2 separate regions of the Homo sapiens genome follow, and region 2 is reported to be linked to region 1. The links are microRNA targets in miRTarBase. Many come from high-throughput screens and were not tested one by one. Region 1 holds a microRNA gene; the other region holds the end of a gene's coding sequence.

Region 1 (4,403 bases):
TTCTACTTTGTTTTCTATCATTGTTTATTATGATACCTCATCTGTTTACTTCTCAGTGTCCACTGCTCTCCTTCCTACACTCGCAGCATTTCTCAGTGCAGTGTCGTCTATCCCTGATACGTGCTAGATTTCCTTTGAACTTCGTTCTCTGTTTTGTTTGGGATTATTGGAAAGTAAAGTTACATTTTAGTGTATTTGTTTTTATGTTTTGGGGGTTTTTGTATTGTGTATGTTCTTTTTGATTTTTGTTATTGTATTGCTTGTTTGCTTTTTTAGGGTTTTTGTTTCCTGTAGAATTTTGTATATTTGGATGTGTTTTGTATATTTTGTGTGTTTTTTTTTATTCCGATTTTGAATGGTGTTTTTAAATGTGTGTTAATTAGAATTTTCAGTAGTATTTTTACATTCTTAAAAATTGTTACTCCCGGCTGGGCACGGTGGCTCATGCCTGTAATCCCAGCACTTTGGGAGGCCGAGGCCAGTGGATCTCCTGAGGCCAGGAGTTCAAGACCAGCCTGGTCAACACGGTGAAACCCTGCTTCTACAGAAAATACAGAAAATTAGCTGGGTCTGGTGGCACATGCCTGTAATCCCAGCTACGTGGGAGGCTGAGGCAGGAGAATCGCTTGAACCCAGGAGGCGGAGGTTGCAGTGAGCTGAGATTGTGCCATTGCCCTCCAGCCTGGGCAACAAAAGCAAAACTCTGTCTCAAAAAAAAAATTGTTACTCCTTTATTGTTTTTTTAGTTGACACATAATAATTTGTAAATATTGATGAGATATAGTGAGATGTTTTGATACATACATGCATTGTGTAATAATCAAATCAGGGATTTAGTATTTTCATTACCTCAAACGTCCATCACTTCTTTGTGGGAAGAACATTCAAAACCCTCTCTTCTAGTGATTTTGGAATATACCATAAAATATTGTTAACTAACTATAATCAATCACTCTTCTGCACAATAACACATCAGAACTTTTAGCCCTCCTAACTGTGACTCTGTACCCATAAACCAATTTTTCCCCAACCCCCCTTTCCCTTCCCTTCCCCAGACTCTGGTAACCATCATTCTACTCTCTACTCCTATGAGATCAACTTTCTTAGACTCTGCGTATGAGTCAGATCATGCAGTGTTTGTCTTTGTGTTTGCATTGCCCTATTTTGTGAGCATTCGTTTTGGGGTTGTTTGTTTCATTGTTCACATGTTTATTTGCATGTGTGGCATGCATGTGTTCACATGTGTTGCAGATATTTCTTGGTCTAAACACTGGTTTGCAAGTGCATGACTGTGGTGACTACTGCTTCTGCTGCTGTAGGCCTTCATCTCTGAACAGAGGATGCCAAACCAAGGCCCCAATGATATAAAGAAGATTCAAATTGGAAAGAAGAGAACTCTCCAGCACTGCTTCAACTGAGCTCTATCTGGCCTGCAATCGCTAGATATGATGAGTCACTTGAGTGGTCCTTTCTATGTAATGACTGGCTTTTGAGGCATATGAAGTAGTTGTTCATGTGCCAACTATATTAAATTGAAAATTAGCAGAACAATTTAGTGAAGTATGCTAAGTCTGGGAGGAAGAGGGAAAATTTTCTCTCTCCTAAAATCTGTCTCATTAAATGTGCAGCAGGTGAAGTAATTAATAAGCATTCAGTGAAAGACATAGGAGACAAAAGGGAGAGGAAAAAGGGTTTGTTTTTTTTTTAATCTATTGACTATATTCTGCTTATTCCTAGTGGACTGAGAGTGTTGGGATTCTGACTGAAATGGCGGAGTGAGGGACATTTTCCGCTGTGCTGTGTGTAGTGCTTCACTTCAAGAAGTGCCATGCATGTGTCTAGAAATATGTTTTGCACCTTTTGGAGTGAAATAATGCACAACAGATACAAGTCAGAACTACCCACTCAGTGATGGGTCAACTCATACAACCCTTTAAAGAGAATTCTGTGGGGTAAAACCTAGAGGATGAGGTTCTCTGGGAATAGCCTCATCTGTAGTTTCCCCGTGTTACTATTAAGATGGTCAGTGCCACCACCATCAGCCATACTATGTGTAGTGCCTTATTCAGGAAGGTGTTACTTAATAGATTAATATTTGTAAGGCACCCTTCTGAGTAGAGTAATGTGCAACATGGACAACATTTGTGGTGGCATTGGTAATGACGAGTGGAATTTCAGTGACAATACTGCCCTCCCTTGAGCCTTGGTACCCAACCTTTAGTGATGAGCCATTTCCAGGTACTCTCTGAAGTACCTCTTGAGAGATCTGCTCCAGAATCTGAGGGTGCCTGGGAAAAGTCTCTCATGTAGGTTTTTCAATTATTTATTGCTTTTTCTCCACAAAATGACTGACTACACTGGAAACAAGATTTGAGGTAGGAACATGATACTTCTTTTTCTCTTGTACCTCTTAGTCTTTTCTCTCTATAACAACCCAAATACACTTCTTGCCTTATAAACCCCTGAGAAGTTTACACTGATCTTCTTTCCTCACAATATTTAAGCCTTCTTTTTAGGGAGCACAAATATCCTCCTGCCCTTCCCTGCTGAACTCCAAACTCCATGAACCATCTTTCTTATGAAGTGATCTCCTCAAGGCTTAGATACACTCAAATTCCCTTTAATATTCCTGTGTATCCGTGATGATAATCTCATATCAGTGGAGTTTGATATGATACCCCAAATTTGCTTTCATTTGAACTATTTATATGTTTTTAGCTGGTCTTAACTATTATGGGAACGGATGAAGTGATGAGAACATATATGTATGAACATGTGTGTACATATACTTCTGGAAACTTTACATATACAAAGGGGTTTATATATCCCTTTATATATATATATATATATATATATATATATATATATACACACACACACACACACACACACACATACATATGACATTCACAGAAAAAGGAAAAGGATGCAGAAAAAGGATCATGTTCCTACCTCAAATCTTGTTCCCAGTGTTTTGTAGTCCTTTTGTGGAGAAAAAGGAATAAATGCTTAAAAAACCTACAGGACATACTTTTCACAGGTACCCCAGGCACCCTCAGATTCTGGATCAGGTCTTATAAGACCTTCAAAGAAACACCCAGGACAATGATTGAGCAAATATATATGTATATAATTATTATAGAAGTCTATTTTTAAAATAAATCCCTTAAGATATTTATTATAAGGATACTGCAAGGAATAACCTCAGGCAACTATGGAGGCTGGTGAGTTCCTAGATCTGCAGGGGGATGGGTCAGCAAGCTGGGGACCCAGGAGAACTGATGGTATAGTTGCAGTCCAAGTCCAGAGGCCAAAGAAGCAGTAGAACAAACCATTTTGTAGTTCCAGTCCAAAGGCCAGCAGGTTTGAGACCCAGGAAGAGCTAATGTTTTAATTTGAGTACAATGCCAGAAAAAAATGAGATGCCCCAGTTTGGAGGCAGTCAGGCAGGAGGAATTCTCTCTAACTTAGGGGAGAGTCAGCCTTTTTGTTCCATTTAAACCTTCATCTGATTGGTGCAGGCCCATCCATCCACATTAGGGAGGGTGGTCTGCTTTACTCATTCTACTGATTTAAATGCTAATGTCATCCAAAAAGACCTTCACAGAAACACCCAGAATAATGACTGACCAAATGTCTGGGCACTCCATGACCCAGTCAGGTTGAAATATAGAATTAATCATCACAAGTTCACTCCTTGTCATGTTGTCACTTATACGCATCTCCTTAAATTATATTTAATCATCAAATGAGAAAAATACCAAGGTCATAATTTCATTTAATAAGATACAACTACCATTTATACAACCCAGAATTCATGAACCACTTCACCAGAAGAGGAGATAAAGTCCTGGAGTGTTGTTTGTTTACTCTTCTCCTTGGTGTTCCATAACATCAATACTATGATTATTTAAAGTTAACAACGGTTAATAACTATGATATAATATCAGTACACCTTACGTTACATGATAAGGGGATAAGAGAGACAAGAAAACACAGAAGTATATTAATAAAAATATAAGTAGAAAATACTCATGGGAACTACAATTCTCATTTCTGTAACTGTCATCTGGTGTTAGCTGGTATTTACAACTACTTTTCTTCACTACCCATTTTGTATTCCCTTTGCCTTCAGCAAGCACCTCAGCCATTATATTTTACCTGGTAGAGTGACCCAAACTTTCATTTCTGAAGGGTCTGGGCCATTAGTAGTCCTGCCAGGATTGGGTTGTTGTAGTTTTCTACTGACCTTAATCACAAGGCATAGTAATACTAAGAGACATCTTATGTATTTCAGAAATATTCTTCCTTACCTCCATTGTGGAGTAGTACTCCAATTTTCCCTTGGTAGTCAGAATCACCTGCTCCAGGCCACACAGTAACTCCCTTCTCTGACCTCTTAA
Region 2 (4,403 bases), not on the chromosome of region 1:
TCGCACAAATGCTGTGACGGCTAATAATTCCTTAGGGTGTCCTTAATGGACATTGCACTGACAACATTGTTTCAGGCTAATTTATACATGACAACTAAAAGGAATAATTGGTACTTAGAGATGGAAAAATGACATGATACATTTATCACATTTTAATGTTGTTTGAGCCCTTTCAGTTTTTTTCACAGTGTATCCTGACTGCTTGAATTAGATATTCAAGGGCAGGAATTTTTTTATTTGGAATGTCTTCATTATATGAATTGCAGCCCAGAGCAAAGATTCATTTTCAACCGTCGAGATAGCTCATGGAACCTCAGTGGCAAAGGTTTAAGATAGGAACATCAGAAAAGGTGTCCTTCATAAAAATAAGGGAATTCTTTCCATCACCACATTATTCTTTAACATTCAACTCTAAGTGGGCACACACTTTAGTATTAGAGGAAAGTGGCTGTGCACTTGCTGCCACCTCTAACAAATTTTCCTGGTCCCATTCATACTCTTAATGCCTTATTCTAAGAATTAATCCTAAAAATTAATCCCGTTCTTCATTTCTGCATTACAGGATAACATAAACATAGAGGAAGCTGCCCGGTTCCTAGTGGAGAAGATTCTTGTAAACCACCAAAGCTTTCCTAATGAAGAAAACGATGTGGACAAAATTAAGCTAGATCAAGAGACCTTGAGAGCAGAGAACAAATCCCAGTGTTGCTGATATATGGCTTCTGCTTCTCTTGTGTGTGCCTCAGCTCTGAAGAAGTTCCTGAGAATGGGTTACAGATGTCATGTTAGCTGGGAGTCTTCCCACATGTGGCACTTCAAAAGGCAGCACCACTGGGCGCCTGCACTTATTTGAAAATGGAACTTTGGGAGAAGTATCCCTGCTAGTGGCTCTGTAACTTAACAGATGACAATTAGGCTTTTGTCATTGTTGCCATCATATGGAAGATAATGTTTACATCCTTTTAAACATTTTTATATGACAATTCCTCAGGATTTGGTAAGGCTTCCAAGTTGTAGCTTTTAGTGTAAGTGCTGGGGTGGTAATAAAATGTTACCTCCAGTCTTATGGTCATTTTGAGTCTTATTTTTGCCACCTTATTGCATCCTCGCTTTTTAGGGGGGTTTTTAGATTCTATTAGCCACGAAGGCTTGAGGTTTCTCTTTAGCGATTTTCTATTCAAAACTTTGGAAAGGCCAGGTATGGTGGCTCATGCCTATAATTCCAGCACTTTAAGAAGGTGAGGCAGGAAGATCACTTGAGCCCAGAAGTTTGAGGTCACAGTGAGCTATGATTGCACCATGGCACTCCAGCCTGAGCAACAGAGTGAGAACCTCTTTCTTAAAACAAAACAAAGCAAAACAAACAAACGAACCTTTTGAAACTTCGTGTAAAGTTACTTTCCTTACTTATAACTAACTTAACCATTCATAGCTGGTGTGGCATGTGGTCGCTCTTCTTAAATACATTAAAATGACCTTCTTAATGACTGAAAAAGTACTCATAGCACATCTGTATTATGGATGTTTCCTTCTGGATATGGTTACTACCCCTTGGAAACTATATAAATGAGCATTTCTTCTTCTCTCTCCCTAGTCCTTTCTCTCTTCTTCCTGTGTGTTTATGTTCATAACTGAGGGCCTAAGTGATATGATGGTTGCAATTCTTTCTCAAGTCTGTGATAGCAATGGTCAAGGAGAGAAAGTATTTCAAAGCATATACAATTAAATCTGAGCTTCTATAGTATGAATTGTGAAAGACACTAGGTCATGTGTGGTTTTATCTAAGGGTCGGGACATTTAAAGTATAATATCTAAGAAACTTAAGGCAGATTCACAATATCTGCATTACCATTTAAGCCAATTAATGAAAATAATAAATATTTTGACCGAAGTCTTACTTTTGAATTAGTATAATTCTACAATAGAAAGGTAATATGGGATGTACTTTTCTGCCTTAGAAAAATTTGTTAACTTTTGCCTTTTATTTTTAAGGGACTTACTTATATCATGTCCAACTTACTGATTTAAGAAAGGTCCAAACTTACTTCTTTCTTTTATTATTATTATATTATTATTATTATTATTATTATTATTATTATACTTTAAGTTTTAGGGTACATGTGCACAGTGTGCAGGTTAGTTACATATGTATACATGTGCCATGCTGGTGTGCTGCACCCATTAACTCGTCACTTAGCATTAGGTATATCGCCTAATGCTATCCCTCCCCCCTCCCCCAACCCCACAACAGTCCCCAGAGTGTGATGTTCCCCTTCCTGTGTCCATGTGTTCTCATTGCTCAATTCCCATCTATGAGTGAGAACACGCGGTGTTTGGTTTTTTGTCCTTGTGATAGTTTACTGAGAATGATGATTTCCAATTTCATCCACGTCCCTACAAAGGACATGGTGTATTCCATGGTGTATATGTGCCACATTTTCTTAATCCAGTCTATCATTGTTGGACATTTAGGTTGGTTCCAAGTCTTTGGGATTGTGAATAGTGCCGCAATAAACATACGTGTGCATGTGTCTTTATAGCAGCATGATTTATAGTCCTTTGGGTATATACCCAGTAATGGGATGGCTGGGTCAAATTGTATTTCTAGTTCTAGATCCCTGAGGAATCGCCACACTGACTTCCACAATGGTTGAACTAGTTTACAGTCCCACCAACAGTGTAAAAGTGTTCCTATTTCTCCACATCCTCTCCAGCACCTGTTGTTTCCTGACTTTTTAATGATTGTCATTCTAACTGGTGTGAGATAGTATCTCATTGTGGTTTTGATTTGCCTTTCTCTGATGGCCAGTGATGATGAGCATTTTTTCATGTGTCGTTTGGCTGCATAAATGTCTTCTTTTGAGAAGTGTCTGTTCATATCCTTTGCCCACTTGTTGATGGGGTTGTTTGTTTTTTTCTTGTCAATTTGTTTGAGTTCATTGTAGATTCTGGATATTAGCCCTTTGTCAGATGAGTAGGTTGTGAAAATTTTCTCCCATATTGTAGGTTGCCTGTTCACTCTGATGGTAGTTTCTTTTTGCTGTGCAGAAGCTCTTTAGTTTAATTAGATCCCATTTGTCAATTCTGGCTTTTGTTGCCATTGCTTTTGGTGTTTTAGACATGAAGTCCTTGCCCATGCCTATGTCCTGAATGGTAATGCCTAGGTTTTCTTCTAGGGTTTTTATGGTTTTAGGTCTAACGTTTAAGTCTTTAATCCATCTTGAATTAATTTTTGTATAAGGTGTAAGGAAGGGATCCAGTTTCAGCTTTCTACATATGGCTAGCCAGTTTTCCCAGCACCATTTATTAAATAGGGAATCCTTTCCCCATTTCTTGTTTTTGTCAGGTTTGTCAAAGATCAGATAGTTGTAGAAGTGTGGTATTATTTCTGAGGGCTCTGTTCTGTTCCATTGATCTATATCTCTGTTTTCGTACCAGTACCGTGCTGTTTTGGTTACTGTAGCCTTGTAGTATAGTTTGAAGTCAGGTAGCGTGATGCCTCCAGCTTTGTTCTTTTGGCTTAGGATTGACTTGGCAATGTGGGCTCTTTTTTGGTTCCATATGAACTTTAAAGTAGTTTTTTCCAATTCTGTGAAGAAAGTCATTGGTAGCTTGATGGGGATGGCATTGAATCTATAAATTACCTTGGGCAATATGGCCATTTTCACAATATTGATTCTTCCTGCCCATGAGCATGGAATGTTCTTCTATTTGTTTGTATCCTCTTTTATTTCGTTGAGCAGTGGTTTGTAGTTCTCCTTGAAGAGGTCCTTCACGTCCCTTGTAAGTTGGATTCCTAAGTATTTTATTCTCTTTGAAGCAATTGTGAATGGGAGTTCACTCATGATTTGGCTCTCTGTTTGTCTGTTATTGGTGTATAAGAACGCTTGTGATTTTTGTACATTGATTTTGTATCCTGAGACTTTGCTGAAGTTGCTTATCAGCTTAAGGAGATTTTGGGCTGAGACTATGGGGTTTTCTAGATATACAATCATGTCGTCTGCAAACAGGGACAATTTGACTTCCTCTTTTCCTAATTGAATACCCTTTATTTCCTTCTCCTGCTTAATTGCCCTGGCCAGAACTTCCAACTTTCAAATAAAATTGTAAGGGTTTTGTAACACAATCCAAAGCTAATGCAAAATGAGACCTTGACCAAATTTGTTTTATACATTAAGTGAACTTGGATGGGCAAGATTCATTAATTTATTGAGAACAAAAACAAAACCAAAGCCTAGGCTTGGCAAGATCTAATCCCAACACTTTGGTAGGTCAAAGCGGGAGAATCTCTTGAGCCCAGGAGTTCAAGACCAGCCTTAGCAACATAGAGAGACCTTGTCTTTACAAAAATCAAAAACAAAAACAAAACACTGAAAAACACAGCAAGAAGTGCATTTGCTTTG

What was found. The annotated mature microRNA hsa-miR-506-5p reads UAUUCAGGAAGGUGUUACUUAA and lies in region 1 at 2,063-2,084, shown strand. An mRNA with a match to its seed (bases 2 to 7 or 8) in the 3' UTR can be bound and repressed. Matches are read on the target gene's strand: a 7mer-m8 pairs with bases 2 to 8, a 7mer-A1 pairs with bases 2 to 7 and ends in A, and an 8mer does both.
Region 2: miRTarBase lists RAB32 as a target of hsa-miR-506-5p. The part of its 3' UTR that is shown has no 7-base or 8-base seed match.

Annotation. Positions count from the first base shown.
Region 1 is chrX:147,228,469-147,232,871 of GRCh38, reverse strand. MIR506 (microRNA 506) reads left to right here and starts at 2,029; the gene lies at 2,029-2,152. MIR507 (microRNA 507) reads left to right here and starts at 1,795; the gene lies at 1,795-1,888. All of the region lies in intron 2 of LOC105373347 (periphilin-1), which reads right to left.
Region 2 is chr6:146,553,894-146,558,296 of GRCh38, forward strand. It overlaps RAB32 (RAB32, member RAS oncogene family), which reads left to right. Exons shown (of 3, transcript NM_006834.5): 3 at 563-1,060. The coding sequence ends at 712. Among named protein-coding and RNA genes, the nearest start is that of RAB32, 12 kb to the left of the region's middle.